Linked DNA regions of Homo sapiens: region 2 is linked to region 1. The links come from fine-mapping of genetic effects on gene expression. Tissue or cell type: whole blood. Region 1 holds a variant in brackets; the other region holds the start of a gene. All regions are shown on one strand. Distances are between the middles of the regions.

What was found. PIP is the estimated chance that this variant, and not a neighbour inherited with it, causes the effect.
Region 2: ACTG1 starts here. The variant in region 1 is fine-mapped to the expression of ACTG1 in whole blood (TOPMed, PIP 0.93).

Annotation. Positions count from the first base shown.
Region 1 is chr17:81,477,681-81,485,795 of GRCh38, forward strand. It overlaps LINC01971 (long intergenic non-protein coding RNA 1971), which reads right to left and starts at 3,786. Exons shown (of 2, transcript NR_184097.1): 1 at 3,502-3,786; 2 at 2,845-3,245. RefSeq lists an enhancer at 5,949-6,599, a cis regulatory region at 6,503-7,300 and a silencer at 6,658-7,067. The variant T/G (reference allele first, on the strand shown) is at 4,343.
Region 2 is chr17:81,510,271-81,516,692 of GRCh38, forward strand. ACTG1 (actin gamma 1) reads right to left here and starts at 2,529. Exons shown (of 6, transcript NM_001614.5): 1 at 2,464-2,529; 2 at 1,962-2,090; 3 at 1,633-1,872; 4 at 918-1,356; 5 at 657-838; 6 at 1-563. The coding sequence starts at 2,084. The coding sequence ends at 420. It also overlaps a transcript of FSCN2 not described here. RefSeq lists enhancers at 1,975-2,064, 3,275-3,554, 3,585-3,634, 4,777-5,400, 5,401-6,026 and 1 more and silencers at 2,285-2,454, 2,655-3,134, 3,765-3,954, 4,175-4,894, 4,965-5,014.

The DNA.
Region 1 (8,115 bases):
CCTGACCTTGCATTGAGGCTGCAGGCCTCGGGGCCTTCCAGTGACCCACACCCAGCCACGTTTCATTTTCTGAACTTGGGTTTCAAACATGAGGAAGGAACTGAGGCTGGTGTTCCAGGAGCGGCCCCAGCGCTTGCTGGTGGCTGTGTGGGGGCACAGGCCCCCCAGTAAGTCTCCCATCCACAGGGGCATCAGAAGGATGGAGAGGTAGAGTGTCTCCCCCACCCCCCGATTGGCCTATAGGAAAGGACAGACAGTCCCCAGTGCTGGCACCATGTGGGGCAATCAGAACCCACCCACACTGCGGGTGGGAGCAGCGGTCAGGACAGTGGCTTGCAGAGCTAGCAGTGTCTGCTAACATCCACCAGAAACCCCCACTGTCGGGCACAAGGAGACACACACTAGAATGTTTGTAGCAACACTATTCACAGACTTTGGAGATAATCTAAATGTCTGTCAACAAGAGACTTGGTAGATAAAGTGTTACATCCATACAATGGACTACAACACAGCAACGCAAGAGAACAACCACAGACACACGCAGGACGCAGCAATGCAGTGAGCACGGGCAGCATTGTGTGGCGTGAAGGCGCCAGCCTCGGAGAGGACGGCTGTACAGCTCTGCTGGCGCGGACTAAGGATCAGGCAGAGCAGTCTCCGGGATGGGTGGCAGAGCGCTCCTGGGCTTGCATGGGAGGGGGCACGAGGGAGCCTCTAAGGGCTGGGAGTTCTCTGGACCGGGCTGGCGGTTGCACGGATGTGCACGAATGTGAAAGTCCAGTGATCTGCAGCTTAAGATTGGTGCACCTGGCCAGGCGCGGTGGCTCACGCCTGTAATCCCAGCACTTTGGGAGGCCGAGGCAGGCAGATCACGAGGTCAGGAGATCCAGACCATCCTGGCTAACACAGTGAAACCCCATCTCTACTAAAAATACAAAAAAAGATTAGCTGGGCGCGGTGGCGGGTGCCTGTGGTCCCAGCTACTCGGGAGGCTGAGGCGGGAGAATAGGGTGAACCCGGGAGGCAGAGCTTGCAGTGAGCCGAGATTGTGCCACTGCACTCTAGCCTGGGCGACAGAGCAAAACTCTGTCTCAAAAAAAAAAAAGATTGGTGCACCTACTTCACTTTTTTTTTATTTTTTTATTTTTTTGGAAACAGAGTCTCACTCTGTTGCCCAGGCTGGAGTGCAGTGGCACGATCTCGGCTCACTGCAAGCTCTGCCTTCCGGGTTCACGCCATTCTCCCGCCTCAGCCTCCCGAGTAGCTGGGACTACAGGCACCCGCCACCACGCCCGGCTAATCTTTTGTATTTTTAATAGAGATGGGGTTTCACCGTGTTAGACAGGATGGTCTGGATCTCCTGACCTCGTGATCCACCTGCCTCAGCCTCCCAAAGTGCTGGGATTACAGGCGTGAGCCACCGCGCCCGGCCTTTTATTTTATTTTTTGAGACGGACTCCCTCTATTCCCCAGGGTGGAATGCAGTGGCGCAGTCACGGCTTACTGCAGCTTCTTCCTCCTTGGGCTCAAGCAGTCCGCCCACCTTGGCCTCCCAAAGTGTTGGGATTACAGGCATGATCCACCACCCCCAGCCCGGATCCCAGTTTTTGATGTCGGTGGAATTGGAGATGGCAGGCAGGGCCATCTGTGTGCCAGCTGTGGTTGATTAGCAGGGGCTGCCTGGAGAATGATCTGAGGGCCCGAGGCCACCGCTGGGCTCCGTGGGAGAGAGTGGCTGATGGATTAGTGATGTCTGCCACATGCGCTGCAGGAACGAGAGGCAGCCTCCATGTCCCTGAAAGACGGCCATCCTCGCACTAACCTCACAGCCCCCCACAGGCAGCTCACTCCAGCCAAGCCCACCACCACCTCCTCAACTGCAACAAATGCTTATAATGACAGCTCATGTATATTTATCGAGCCTGTAATTACCAAGACAGTGTGCTGCACGTCACCTACATCCCCTCACCCTGCCCAACAACCCTATCATCATCGCCATACCACAGGCGGAGAAGCCAGGGACAGGGGTGCCTCGCCCCAGCCTCCTGATGCCTGCGGCAGAGGCCCAGCTGTGCACAGCCACACTCCCCCGGATGCCACGTCCCTGATCCCCATGGTGGCACCTCCTTGCCCCCTGCTTTTCTTCAGCTTCTCCACCACTCCTACTCCTCCTTGCCCTTCAAAGCCACCTCAAGTGCCACCCCCTCTCTCCTCATTATCCAAGAGTCCTCCCCCTCCTGAGCCTCTCAGGGGACCTGGGCCCGAGCCACCTTATCAGGAACTTGTGCATGGCTGCAGTGTTGGGTCACACATGTCTCCAAGTCTGAACTACATCCTTTCTTCCTTGGGCTCCTGGGGCTAAGCCCAACCTGGCAGACAAAGGCTCCCCTGAGAAGGTTTGATGAGTGAATACATGTCCCCTGCCTCAGAGGGAAGCCCCCATCTCAGGCCTCACACGGGCAGATTCATCCTCCTTCCAGATACAGGCCCCATGAAGGGGCAACAGCAAACAGGATCAGTCCCTGCCCTGGGGAATTACAGTCCCAGCAGTGGCTTGTGACAGCTGCCAAGATGGGCAAGCATTGGAGCATCCAGGAGGACCCCCAGGAAGAGGGCCTGAACAACACCGTGCACGTGCGCTGACACGGGGCATTCCTCGTCCTCAGTCCTGCCTCGTTTTGTGACTCATCACTTTCAGGATGGGAAACCCTCCAAGGAAGGTCCCCTTGGCTCTGGGGTGGCTCCTAGTGGATCTGCAAGAGGCGGGGCCCAGCCTGGTCGTGCCCCATCTTAGGCTGCCTCTGCATGGGCTACACATCCACAAAACAAAGCAAAACAGCAACATTTTCTACGATGCTTTTATTCACACTTCAAAACAGGTGCTGGACATCTTCCCATTGCCCCATGCCAGCCCCTGCTCTGTGCCCCGGGAAGCTGACTGTAGGTACAGGATCCATGGGGCCTCGTTGCTCCCTGGCCTCCACCTAGTTCAGCCAATGCGTAGCCGGTAGACAAGCCAAGCGGTCAGGAGGGGTGAGGTCAGTGTACAGCAGCAGCTCCTCCCTGCCGGGTCGCTGTGTCCCTCTCCAAGGTCAGGGCTCCTGGAGACGGCCTCTCCTGTGGCTCCAGCTGCCCTCCAGGTCTCAGGGGGTAACAGCTCCCCTTTGTTGCTGGCCCTGGGTACTGCACAGCTCTCCTTTAATTCACGTATTTTCCATTTATTCAATTCTCCTCAAATACCCTGTCTGAGGGTGCCATAAAAATGTAAGACTGTGTCAATTGCCCATATCAAAAAACATGCTTGTACGTTCCACTTGAAGTAGTTTGGAGGGGAGACTAATGGAAACTAGGGGGAGGCTAGCCCCCAAGCCTCCGCTGAGGCCACCGCTGTCTGTGTCCCGAGGGCCCTGGAGTAGGAGGTGTCAATGACGGACTCAATGAATGAATGAATTGATCCCACCACCACCAGCGGCAGGCCCGCCTCTTCCTTCCACAGCCCACCTTGGCCTCCCCGCCTCGCCAGGTGGCAAGGCCTTCGCTCCTGGTCCCTGAGCGCCGCTCGCTTCCCTCCCGCGTGGGCAGGGGGCAGCCGCGACGCCGGCCCAGCGCCTCCGAGCCGGGAACCGCACAGCACCCGGCGATGGCCCCGAGCCCCGCGCGCCCGAAGCCACGGCGCCGCTCGCTGGGGGCCTCGGGACGGCAGGGACGGCTGGGGGTGGCGCGGACCGCGTCCCCGAGGCGCGTAGCGCGCGATCGAACCACGCGCCCCGCCCGCTGCGGTCCTCTAACAGCCCCTCGCGCCGCCCCACGTGGGGCCGCACGGGCTGGCGGCCCCCTCACCCGATTGGCCGCCGCACAGCCAATCAGAGAGCGGAGGCGATAGCGGCCGCGCCGATTGGCTGCGGCGGGCCGGCCCGGGGGAGGGGGCGGGACCCCTTTTGTTCTCTCCGCACCTCCGGGTTCGCGCGACTGTGAGCGCCCCCGCCCCGGAGCAGGGGTCCGCGCTGGGGGTCCGGAGGGCGGGGGCGCGGCCCGACGCCCCACCCCCAGCTTGTTCACTGCCGCCAGGGCCCAGCGCCTGAAGCGCGGGTCCTTCGCTGGGACGAGCGCTTTCATCTCCGTCCCTCAGTTTCCCTCCCCTTGTCTTCTCCCTGTGTCCTGGGAGTTATGGGGAAGCTCAGCCCTTGGCAAATGAGCTTGGGACCTTCCTAAAACCTAAGCCAATGATAGGCCCGATCTTGCCTGAGAGGGGCACGTGAGAGACCCCCAAGCTGGAGAGGCAGATGTCCTGGTAACTCTAACCTGAGACCGTTTTCAGGGTGAGCCTTCTCCTAATCACGGC[T/G]GGGGCGTCTTCGTCCAAGGTGGGGCTGGATGGGGGTGGGCAGAGGCCCCCACAGTCACAGCCTGGCCAGCTGTGCAAATGCTCCCCTAAACCGTCCCCCGCTTCAGTCACTCAGCCAACCAATCAATCGCAGGGGCCTCCCTCTGGGGTGGAAAGTGGTGGCCCCAGGGACCAGGGACCTTCACAGGGAGAGAGGGCTGTGGTCCGGGCAGGGGCGTCAGGGGTTCAGCCTGGGTCTCCTGACCTCCAGGCCCACGTCTTCCCTTAGACAACACCTGAGAGCATCTCCCAGCGTGGCTGTGGCCACACACATCCCTGGGAGTAGGACGGGCCACCGCGCTGAAGCTGTGGATGCAGGGCTCCCAATCTGTAGGCGAGGGGCCTCTCCCCTGCAGGGGACAGGATCAGGACCCTGGGAGCCCTCAGTCCCCCTCCCAGCACTGATTACCTGGAAAACCCCCCGAGCCCAGGTTGATGAAGAAGGTGGGACCCTGACAGTGAGTGGCCTGAGCCTGGGATGGTAGCTTGACCTCATCTCCAAGGTCATCCTCCCAGACCTGGGAGTCTAAAAACATTAAATCCTTCAGAAGGACATATTTGCATCAGATCACTGTTCAGAACGCCACTGGTGCCATTCACGGAGCAGTCCCTGGGCTGAAGTGGCTGCTCTGGTCTGGTGAGCGGGGGCACCCACGCGAGCTCCCAGGCCCAGAGGCCTCCCCCAGATCCTGGTGTTAGTGGCCCATGGAAGGACTCCCAGCCCCAGAGGCTTGGCAGGTGTCTGCGGCTCCCCAGGGGTGGGGTGCTGGGAGGCTGACATCTGTGGAGTGTTTTTACTGTTGAACAAATTGAATCAATTAAACAGGCCCCATCGGGGTGGCTGGGAGCGGTGAACAGGAGGAAAGAGGGGAGCGGAGCCAAGAGGACAGCCTGAGGGCGTCTGTCTCCCCAGGCGGGGTTCAGACGCACCTCTTTCCCTGAATGTTCCAGGGCAGGAGACCCCCCGTGTTGACAAGAGGGAGGTGAGTTAGTGGAGGGGGAGTGGGAGGAAAGTCAGTGGGGACTGTCCCTGTTGTGTGTCCCCTGAAAGCACGCCAAGGCCTGTGTCTCCTACCCAGCCACCTCTGGGCTTCTCAGCCCCCAGCCCTGTGATGACCCTTTGGACATCCCAGCCTCCTTTCAAAGACATTTTATTGCTCTCACAAGGAGGCCTCCGGAAGCTGGGAGGCTCCAGCAGAGAAAGAGAGGAGGCTGCCTAGGGAGGCTGGAGGAGGCAGAGAGGAAAGAGGAAACATTGTGGGGGTAATAGCAAGGGCCCCGGGTCACCCACCTGGAGCGGAAGCCTCCCCCTCGGGCAGGCTGAGAATGACGCAGGCGCCGGCTGCTCTGTGACCCAGCTGACCGAGGGACAGCCCCTGCCTGGGAGCTCCAGCAGCTGCTGCAGCGTCCCTCCTGCCCAAGCAAGGGCCGCAGGGCCACCCCTCCAATCCGTCCCCAGAGGTCCACTGCCGCTGCCTCTCCTCCAGCTGCCGCTCAGGGGAGCGAGGTTTCTTGAGTCAGGCCACCGGCAGCGGGCGGCCAGCCCCTCTCAGCATGGCGCTTGCCCAGGGCCTGGGCTCCGTCACATGCCAGGACAGTGGTCACCGTCACCCTGGACAGACCACCTCTGTCCCTTTATGTCAAGTGACCATTATTGGGCCCCCTGAGGCAGACGAGCGTCTCACCAGTAAGCTCCCAGGGAGGACGGCGTGGTCAGGACCTGCCCATCCGCCAGCACTCTGGCCTCTAGGCCCGCAGGCTGAGGGCACCGGCGGGCACCAGAACAGGGGCTGGTTTGGCCGAGGGACCTGCTTCTTGGGCAGCACCAGGAAACAGCCGGAGACCCTCCCAGCGCCCACATCCATGGCGTGAGCCCCGCGTGGGTGCAGCCCCTTCCGCAGCCCGAATTCCAGGCCAGCCGCTGCAGGAGGGACCGCCAGCCAGGGGCGCAGGGCAGAGGGTGGGGGAAGGCGTGGCGCTCGCGCTCTCGGCTCTTGCTTGGATGGCGCCGGCTGAGGACCCCCACACCTGCGCTGCGGTGCAGAGGTCTTAGGATCCGAGGGGGCTGCCGGTCTGGGCCGGCGCGTTCAGGCCCCGGGCGGTGGGGCGGCCTCGGCGTGCGTGGCTCGGTTGCCTGCAGGCAGGCACGCGGCGCTGTGAGAAACGAACGTCCGTGACTTAGCCCACGGGACCGTTTCTGCATTTTCACCCCAACCTGGAGAGCTGCAGCACAGCCGCGGGACAGGAAGTCGCCGCCAGGTGGGTCAGGACTGCGACCTGAACTCGGCTCTGCGGCCTCCCGCTCCGGCCGCCGGTTCGCAATCCTGGCGTGAACCAGCAGATCAACCTCCGGCGCCCGCCACAGGCGCCCTCCCGCGGGAACCGGCAGGCAGGAGCGGTGCGGGGGCGCCCTCCAGCGGCCGTGGCCGGGATGGCGGCCTCCTGCCAGGCTCCAAGCGTGGCCGCGTGGGCAGCGCGCGCAGCCCGCCACGGAAAGACAGGCGCTCCTCCTGGGTGGGCCTTGGGACCCCTTCGCGCCCTGTGTGGCCGCCTCGTGGTGAGCACCCCCGCCCCTCCCTGCAAGGCCGGTGTTCCCAGCTGGAAGGGCAGGCAACCTGGGAACCAGAGGGAGCTGCTCTGGTTGGGAGGAAAAAGCCAGCTCGGTTCCCGCCTGAGCCCCGAAGGGGCGGGGCTGGGAAGGGGGCCTGGCCAGAGGGAAGGAGCACTCTGGGTTGGGGGTGCTGGGGGAGCACAAAGGCAGGAACTGGGGAGCATAAGGCCAGGAGATAGGGGAGAACCTAGGCAGGAGCTGGGGGAGCAGCCAGGCAGGAACTGGGGAGCATCGATGCAGGAGCTGTGTCGCGTGTTATCCCCGTCACGTGGAGTTGTGTGTCCTGCGAGGAGCACAGCATTTCAGGGCCTAGAGCCCCTCTCTGTACTGGAGCCGCCTGTGTGTGTCCATTCCGAATGAGCCATACTTCCCTCGCAGCTCTCCCAGTGGGATTGAGAACTGTTAGGCACACACCTGGTGAAGCATTGCTGCCCTTTCTGTTGGGGAGAAGCGGCCTTCTAGCGCAGAGAATAGCTGCTTCCTGGAACTGAAATCCTGCCGCATCCAGACCAAGAGCATGCTTGGAGCAGGCATCAGTGCACACACTGCTTCCGAAATTACAGCTATAAATTTTAAAAAAATTTTTTTTTCAAGGCAGGGTCTTGCTCTGTGGCCCAGGCTGGAGTGCATTTGCACCACCATGGCTCATGGCAGACTCAACCTCCCTGGCTCAAGCCACGCTCCCACCTCAGCCTCCCAAGTGGCTGGGACTACAGACACATGCCACCACACCTGGCTAAATTTTTTTTTTTTTTTTTTTGAGACAGAGTCTCACTCTGTCACTCAGGCTGGAGTGCAGTGGCGCAAACTCTGCTCACGGCAAGCTCCGCCTCCCGAGTTCACGCCATTCTCCTGTCTCAGCCTCCCGAATAGATGGGACTACAGGTGCCCGCCACCACGCCCAGCTAATTTTCGTATTTTTAGTAGAGATGGGGTTTCACCGTGTTGGCCAGGATGATCTCGATCTCCTGACCTCATGATCCACCCGCCTCGGCCTCCCAAAGTGCTGGGATTACAGGCGTGAGCCACCACGCCCGGCCTAGTTTGGGCAAGTTACATTTTTTTTTTCTTTTTTGAGGCTGAGTCTTGCTCTGTTGCCCAGGCTAGAGTGCAGTGGTGTGAT
Region 2 (6,422 bases), 32 kb after region 1:
CTGGTTCTTGCCAGCCTCTAGAGAAATCCCAGAACACTCAGCCCTGACACGTTAATACCCTGCACAGATCAGAGGCTGCTGGCCACACAGACTCACCAAGCCACAGACTTGTCTTCCACAAGCACGTTCTTACCTTAGCCACGAAGTGACCAAGCCACACGTACTAAAGGTTGAACTCAAAGATATGTACAGGGTATTAAACAAATACCAAGGGGAACAGTTAACTTCAATACAAGGTCAAAATCAGCAACAAGTTCTACAATCCAGTGCTGATATCAGATACAAGCTTCAAGGACAATTTCTTTTCGAAGGCTTATTCCAGTTTCGTGAGGCTAGCATGAGGTGTGTGCATTTGCCAGGGGCAAATTTCTATTCTCAATTAACCCATGCAGCAAATGCTACGCATCTGCTGAGTCCGTTTAGAAGCATTTGCGGTGGACGATGGAGGGGCCCGACTCGTCGTACTCCTGCTTGCTAATCCACATCTGCTGGAAGGTGGACAGTGAGGCCAGGATGGAGCCACCGATCCACACCGAGTACTTGCGCTCTGGGGGTGCGATGATCTGCAAAGACAGCCAGGCACGGCTTCAGCTCACAGAGCGCCCCCCAGTCAGCTCTCCCGAGCCAGGCAGAGGGCCACCAACCCCTCGACTCACCTTGATCTTCATGGTGCTGGGCGCCAGGGCGGTGATCTCCTTCTGCATCCTGTCGGCAATGCCCGGGTACATGGTGGTGCCGCCCGACAGCACCGTGTTGGCGTACAGGTCTTTGCGGATGTCCACGTCACACTTCATGATGGAGTTGAAGGTGGTCTCGTGGATGCCGCAAGATTCCATACCTAGGGGACAGAGCCCTCCCTTAGTGATGCTGTGTCACCGAGGATGTAAGAGTAGAAACCTTTAGCTCACAACACCTACCCAGGAAGGAAGGCTGGAACAGCGCCTCCGGACACCGGAACCGCTCATTGCCAATGGTGATGACCTGGCCATCGGGCAGCTCGTAGCTCTTCTCCAGAGAAGAGGAGGATGCGGCGGTGGCCATCTCCTGCTCGAAGTCCAGGGCGACGTAGCACAGCTTCTCCTTGATGTCGCGCACGATTTCCCGCTCGGCCGTGGTGGTGAAGCTGTAGCCTCGCTCAGTGAGGATCTTCATGAGGTAGTCGGTCAGGTCCCGGCCAGCCAGGTCCAGACGCAGGATGGCGTGGGGGAGGGCGTAGCCCTCGTAGATGGGCACCGTGTGGGTGACCCCGTCTCCAGAGTCCATGACAATGCCAGTGGTGCGCCCAGAGGCGTAGAGGGACAGCACGGCCTGGATGGCCACGTACATGGCCGGGGTGTTGAAGGTCTCAAACATAATCTGAGAAGGGACAAGGGGCGGCTTAGTCAGGGACAGAGACCCACGGCCACCCCATGCTCACACGCCACAACATGCTGCATGCCAGTGTGATGTGTGGAGAAAAGAAAAGAACGCAGGCAGAAACCAAATGAGAAACCTGGAGGCTTCAGGGAGGAAATGCCGGGAGAGGAACAGAGCCTGGAACAGCGAAAGAAACACTTAAATGTCAGAAATCAAGCCGGGCAGAAAATGACTGGGGAAAGGACGGGAGGAGCACGGGCGTCGGCCGAGCCTCACCTGAGTCATCTTCTCTCTGTTGGCCTTGGGGTTCAGGGGGGCCTCGGTCAGCAGCACTGGGTGCTCCTCCGGGGCCACGCGCAGCTCGTTGTAGAAGGTGTGGTGCCAGATCTTCTCCATGTCGTCCCAGTTGGTGACGATGCCATGCTCAATGGGGTACTTCAGGGTCAGGATGCCACGCTTGCTCTGGGCCTCGTCGCCCACGTAGGAGTCCTTCTGGCCCATGCCCACCATGACGCCCTGCAGGGGACGACCCGTCAGCCTCGCCGGCGACACCGAACCCACCCCGCAACGCAGAACCCAGGAGCCCCGCGGCGCCATCCACTCACCTGGTGTCTGGGGCGCCCGACGATGGAAGGAAACACGGCTCGGGGAGCGTCGTCCCCAGCAAAACCAGCTTTGCACATGCCGGAGCCATTGTCAATGACCAGCGCGGCGATCTCTTCTTCCATTGCGACCTGCCCGGAAAAGGATGGACTCAGGCGGGCGCGTCTGTAACACGGTCCCCTCCCCACAGCCACCTAATGCCCTCCCGCGGGGAAGCCTCGGCCCTGCCCCAACCCCAGCGGCCGTGGCCTCCAAGATCGCAACCGCCTGGAACCGAAGGCCGGGCCTTTTACGTAACGTCCACGGCTCGGAAGTCTGCACTGCGGCCGGGCCCCGCCCTGGACCCCCGGCGCCCCCCCAGCCCCGTCCGCCTGACCCGGCCCACCCCGCCTTTTGTTCCCGGGGAAGGCGCGACGAGGCCTCGGCAGCTGGAAGCGGGGCCAGCCGGGGTCGGGGGGCGCAGGCCTGCGACGTCCAGCTCAGGCCCCGGGGCGGGGCGCTCACCGGCAGAGAAACGCGACGGCGGAGCGGCGGAAGAACAGAGTGCGAGAGCTGGCAGCGGCGACTGAGACCGACCGCGGCCTCCCCCGCCGTTATTTAAGCGGAAGCGGCGCGCCCGCGCGGCCCGGCGGCGCGCGCGGCCCCAGAACATGTCCATATATGGCGATCTTTCCGAAAGCCGGGCACCCATTGGCCCGCCGGGCAGGGACACGTGGGGCCCCGGCCCGCCCCGCCCCCAGCCCGCACCGCCTCCCAACGGCCCCGCCCGCGCCACCCCCGCGCGCTCGCGACCCTGCGCGGGCCGGCGGGCGGGTCTGAGTTGGGGCGCCCTCCGAGGGTCGCCGGGAGGGCCGAAGGGCTGACGGGCCTGGCCCCTCCCCGGGACTGCCGCGCCGTGGGGAGGGCCCTGCTGCGCCCCGAAACTGCCTGACCCGGGGCGGGGCCGCGCCGGAGCTGGGGTGGGTCCCCGAGTCCCCGGCCACGCTGCGGGGCTTTGCTCCCTGGGACGTCCCTTGCAATCTTTCCCCTCGGGCTCCACGAGGATCTCGGGCGCCAGTGCCGGGCTGAGGAAGGGGCGCGGCGGGGGTCCGCGACGCTCTGCGTCCCTGGGCGCGGGGGAGCTCTCAGGAGCCCTCACCTCGCCCCGGTCACCATAGGAAACAGCCCGCCCGTCCCCAAGCGCAGCCACCACCATGCAGGTCCCTCCACGGGGCGCCCTGCCCCGGATCTCCGTTCGTTTGAAGACCGAGGCCCCTTTCTACCCGACCCGACACATCCCTGCCCCTCAAATCACAGGCCTGATTGTCCCCAGGCGCGCGCTCCGGGTTGGGGCTACCCCGCCCCCTTATGTGCTGAGAAGGTGGTGTGGAGTGAGGCCTTTGTTTCATTCTGGTCACCTGTAGACATTATAGGGAAACTGAGGTAGACAATGGGAGCCCTGACTTTTTTGAAGGTCGGCTCCCCAGCTTCGGGCGGTCGGGGGGATACCCTCTTCTGTTTACGATGCTAGTTAAGAGCAGCGATCAGGGCTGGCGTGGGTTTAGCCACAGGCTTGTCCAGGGCGCTCACTCCTCGCCAGGAGCGGCGCCGGTGCTTTGGTTACACCCCGAGAGGCGCCCGGCACTACGGTTTCCTTGTGCGCTGCTGGAATTTTCAGGGTTGGAGCGCCGGCCGCGTAGGGGTGGCAGTGAGGCCGCGCAGTGAGGGGACGGACTCGCCCGAGGTCGCAGAGCGTTCAGATTGACTCGACAGGCTGGGGGGCGGGGCCGGGGTCCCCACGCGGAGTCCGGGGCCCTGCAACGTTAGCTCGCGACCCCGTGTTTGGGAGTGACAACAGCGAGTCAGGGCAAGGCGGCCGGCCCAGCTCACCTGCGGGCTGCAGTCAGCCCGGACGCCGAGACCCGTGCCTAAGGCCCCCGTGCCCCAGGCCTCCCAGGGGTGCTGAGCGCCCCCAGGCCCAGAATCTCCGGGGGCCCGGGCAAGGCTGTCAGGTATGTTCCCTCCCGTGGCGAAGCCGGGGCTGGGCCTCCAACAGACCCACCCGGACTCGCGTCCCTGGGCAGAACCACACAGCCTGCTCGACCCCCGGGTGAGGACTTCCACTTGGGGGGTCCCAAGATGCGACGTCACACACCGAGGGACACGAGGCGGGTGGGGAATAGCCACAAGCCCCTCCATCCTGCGTTCACCCCACACTACGTTCTGCTCCGGGCCGGCCGGGGACCCTGCCCCTCCGGGTCTCTGGTCTCCTCCGAAGCTTCTTTGTCTAGGAAGTGCGGGGAGGTGCCGGCCCCGGGCGCGCGTCCCCGTCCCCCACCTTTCTTCCCCACGTTGCGGACCCGAGGCCGCCAGGGTCGTGGGGGCGGGGGCGAGGCTGGCGCCTCGAGACCCCCGGGTTCCCCGCCACCCGCAGGGCCTGAGCCGCGGGGAGGGGCGGGGAGGGGACGCCGCCGCGGGCCGGGGGTGGAGAGCGACTTCCTCCTCCGCGGCCGCGTCACGCGGCAGGGGTCAAGGTGTGGCCCAGGTACGCGGCGGGGGGCGGTGGCGCGGCCATATTTGGCGACTTCGGCGCCGCCGGAGCCCCGCCCGCCTCCGCCGGGAAGCCCGGCCCGGGGCAGCGCCATCCCCGCCCGCCGCCGGGCCTGAGTCACGGCGGGCGGGGGGCGGAAGTAACGGACGGGGGGCGCCCGCCCGGCGCTCCTGGCCTTATTTAGTCAAGGAGGCCGCCGATTGGCGCGCGGGACAGAGGGGCGGCGGCCGGGCAGCCTCGGGGCGTAGGAGTGGCCCGGCGCCTCCGAGGGGTCGGGGCGGGAGCCGGGCGTGGGGGGCCTCGGAGCCTGGGGAGTCCCGGGACCGACGGCGGCGGGGATGCGGGTCTGCCTGTCCCTGGGATGCGGGCGGGCGGGCAGGGCGAGGCCTGGAGCCCGCGGGGCGCAGGGGGCTGGACCGCGCGCTGTGATTTTTCTGTTTAGCAGCGGGGCCTCGCCCAAGGTCGCGCGGGGCCTGTCCTGGATATGCTCTGGGAAGCCAGTGGCGCAGGGCAGCCGCCACCCTTCTGGAACCAGTGCCGGAGAGGGCCGGGCAGCTGGGCCTGGGGAGGGGACCGCATGGATGGAGCTGGGGGTAGCTGGGCGGCCTCCGGAGCCGGGAGAGTCGGCAGCTGCACTTCCGCCAGAGGTGGGTGTGTCCTTCACATTTCAGGAAGGGAGACTTGGGGCCTGGAGAAGCGATGTGATTTTTCTTTTCTAGTTCAGTGCTGGTTTTGATGGCTTTTTATCATGACCTTGTTATGTCTTATTTTAGTTTCGGCCCATTTAGTGGATACGACAACAGTGGCCCAGGGAGGTATGGCAGAGCTGAGGCTTAACCCAGGGCCTGCGCCCTCCACGGCCTGCACTGCCCCACCTCCAGCTCCTTGCCCTGTTCCTCCCTCTGCACCGGATCAGCCCCCGGACTCTGGGTCACCTCCACACCAGTTGACAGGGCCCCCCAGTCCCCACCGCCAACCACCTGGCCGGCTACTTGTCAGACAGACATGGGGGCGTGGGCATGGGTCCCCACCCCTAGCCTTTGCCTCTGTCACTCTACCTGCCTGGAATGTCTACTTTTTCTTTATATTTTATTTTATTGTATTTTTGAGACAGTCTCATTGTCGCCCAGGCTGGAGCGCAGTGGCGCGATCTTGGCTCGCTGCAACCTCTGTCTCCGGGGTTCAAGCGATTCTCGGGCCTTAGCCTCCCGAGTAGCTGAGACTACAGGCGTGCACCACCATGCCTGGCTAATTTTTGCATTTTTGGTGGAGACAGGGTTTCACCATGTTGGCCAGGCTGGCCTGAACTCCTGACCTTAAGTGATCCACTCGCCTAGGCCTTCCAAAGTGCTGGGATTACAGGCGTGAGCCACCTCACCCAGCCTGGAGTGTCTCATCTTCCACCACTAAATGAAACGATGGACCCTGAACAGAAAAAGGAACAGTGGTGGAAGAACTAGCAAAGCCCACAGCCTTGAGTTTGGCCGTAAGTATCAAGGTTAATCTCTCAGTTATGGCAGTTGTCCCATGACCGTGTAAGATGCCAGGTTAGGGGACACTGGGAATAGAGCATTGGGAAACCTTCCCACTGTCTTTGCAACTTTTCTGTAAGTTTAAAGTTCTCCCATAATAAAAAGCTAACTTGAATCCAAGGCAAGCAAAGCTTCCCTACTCTCAGCCCACCTCCCTCTTCTCCCACACCCTTTTGGACAGATGAAATGCAAGGTGATGGCCCTGTTTCCTGAAGCTCTTTCCAGGGCCTGGCTGGCTCCCTTGGGCAGGTCTGGAGTGGGCTCTGCCTCTTCAGGAACAGTGGTCCCAAGGCTGGTCCCGGTGGGCAAGGCTGGTTTCCTGCAACTCGGCCTGGCTGCCTCTGAGTTTTGGCTCAAGGGACAAGGCCAGGGTCCCACACTTCTGTCTCCTGGCTGGTGCC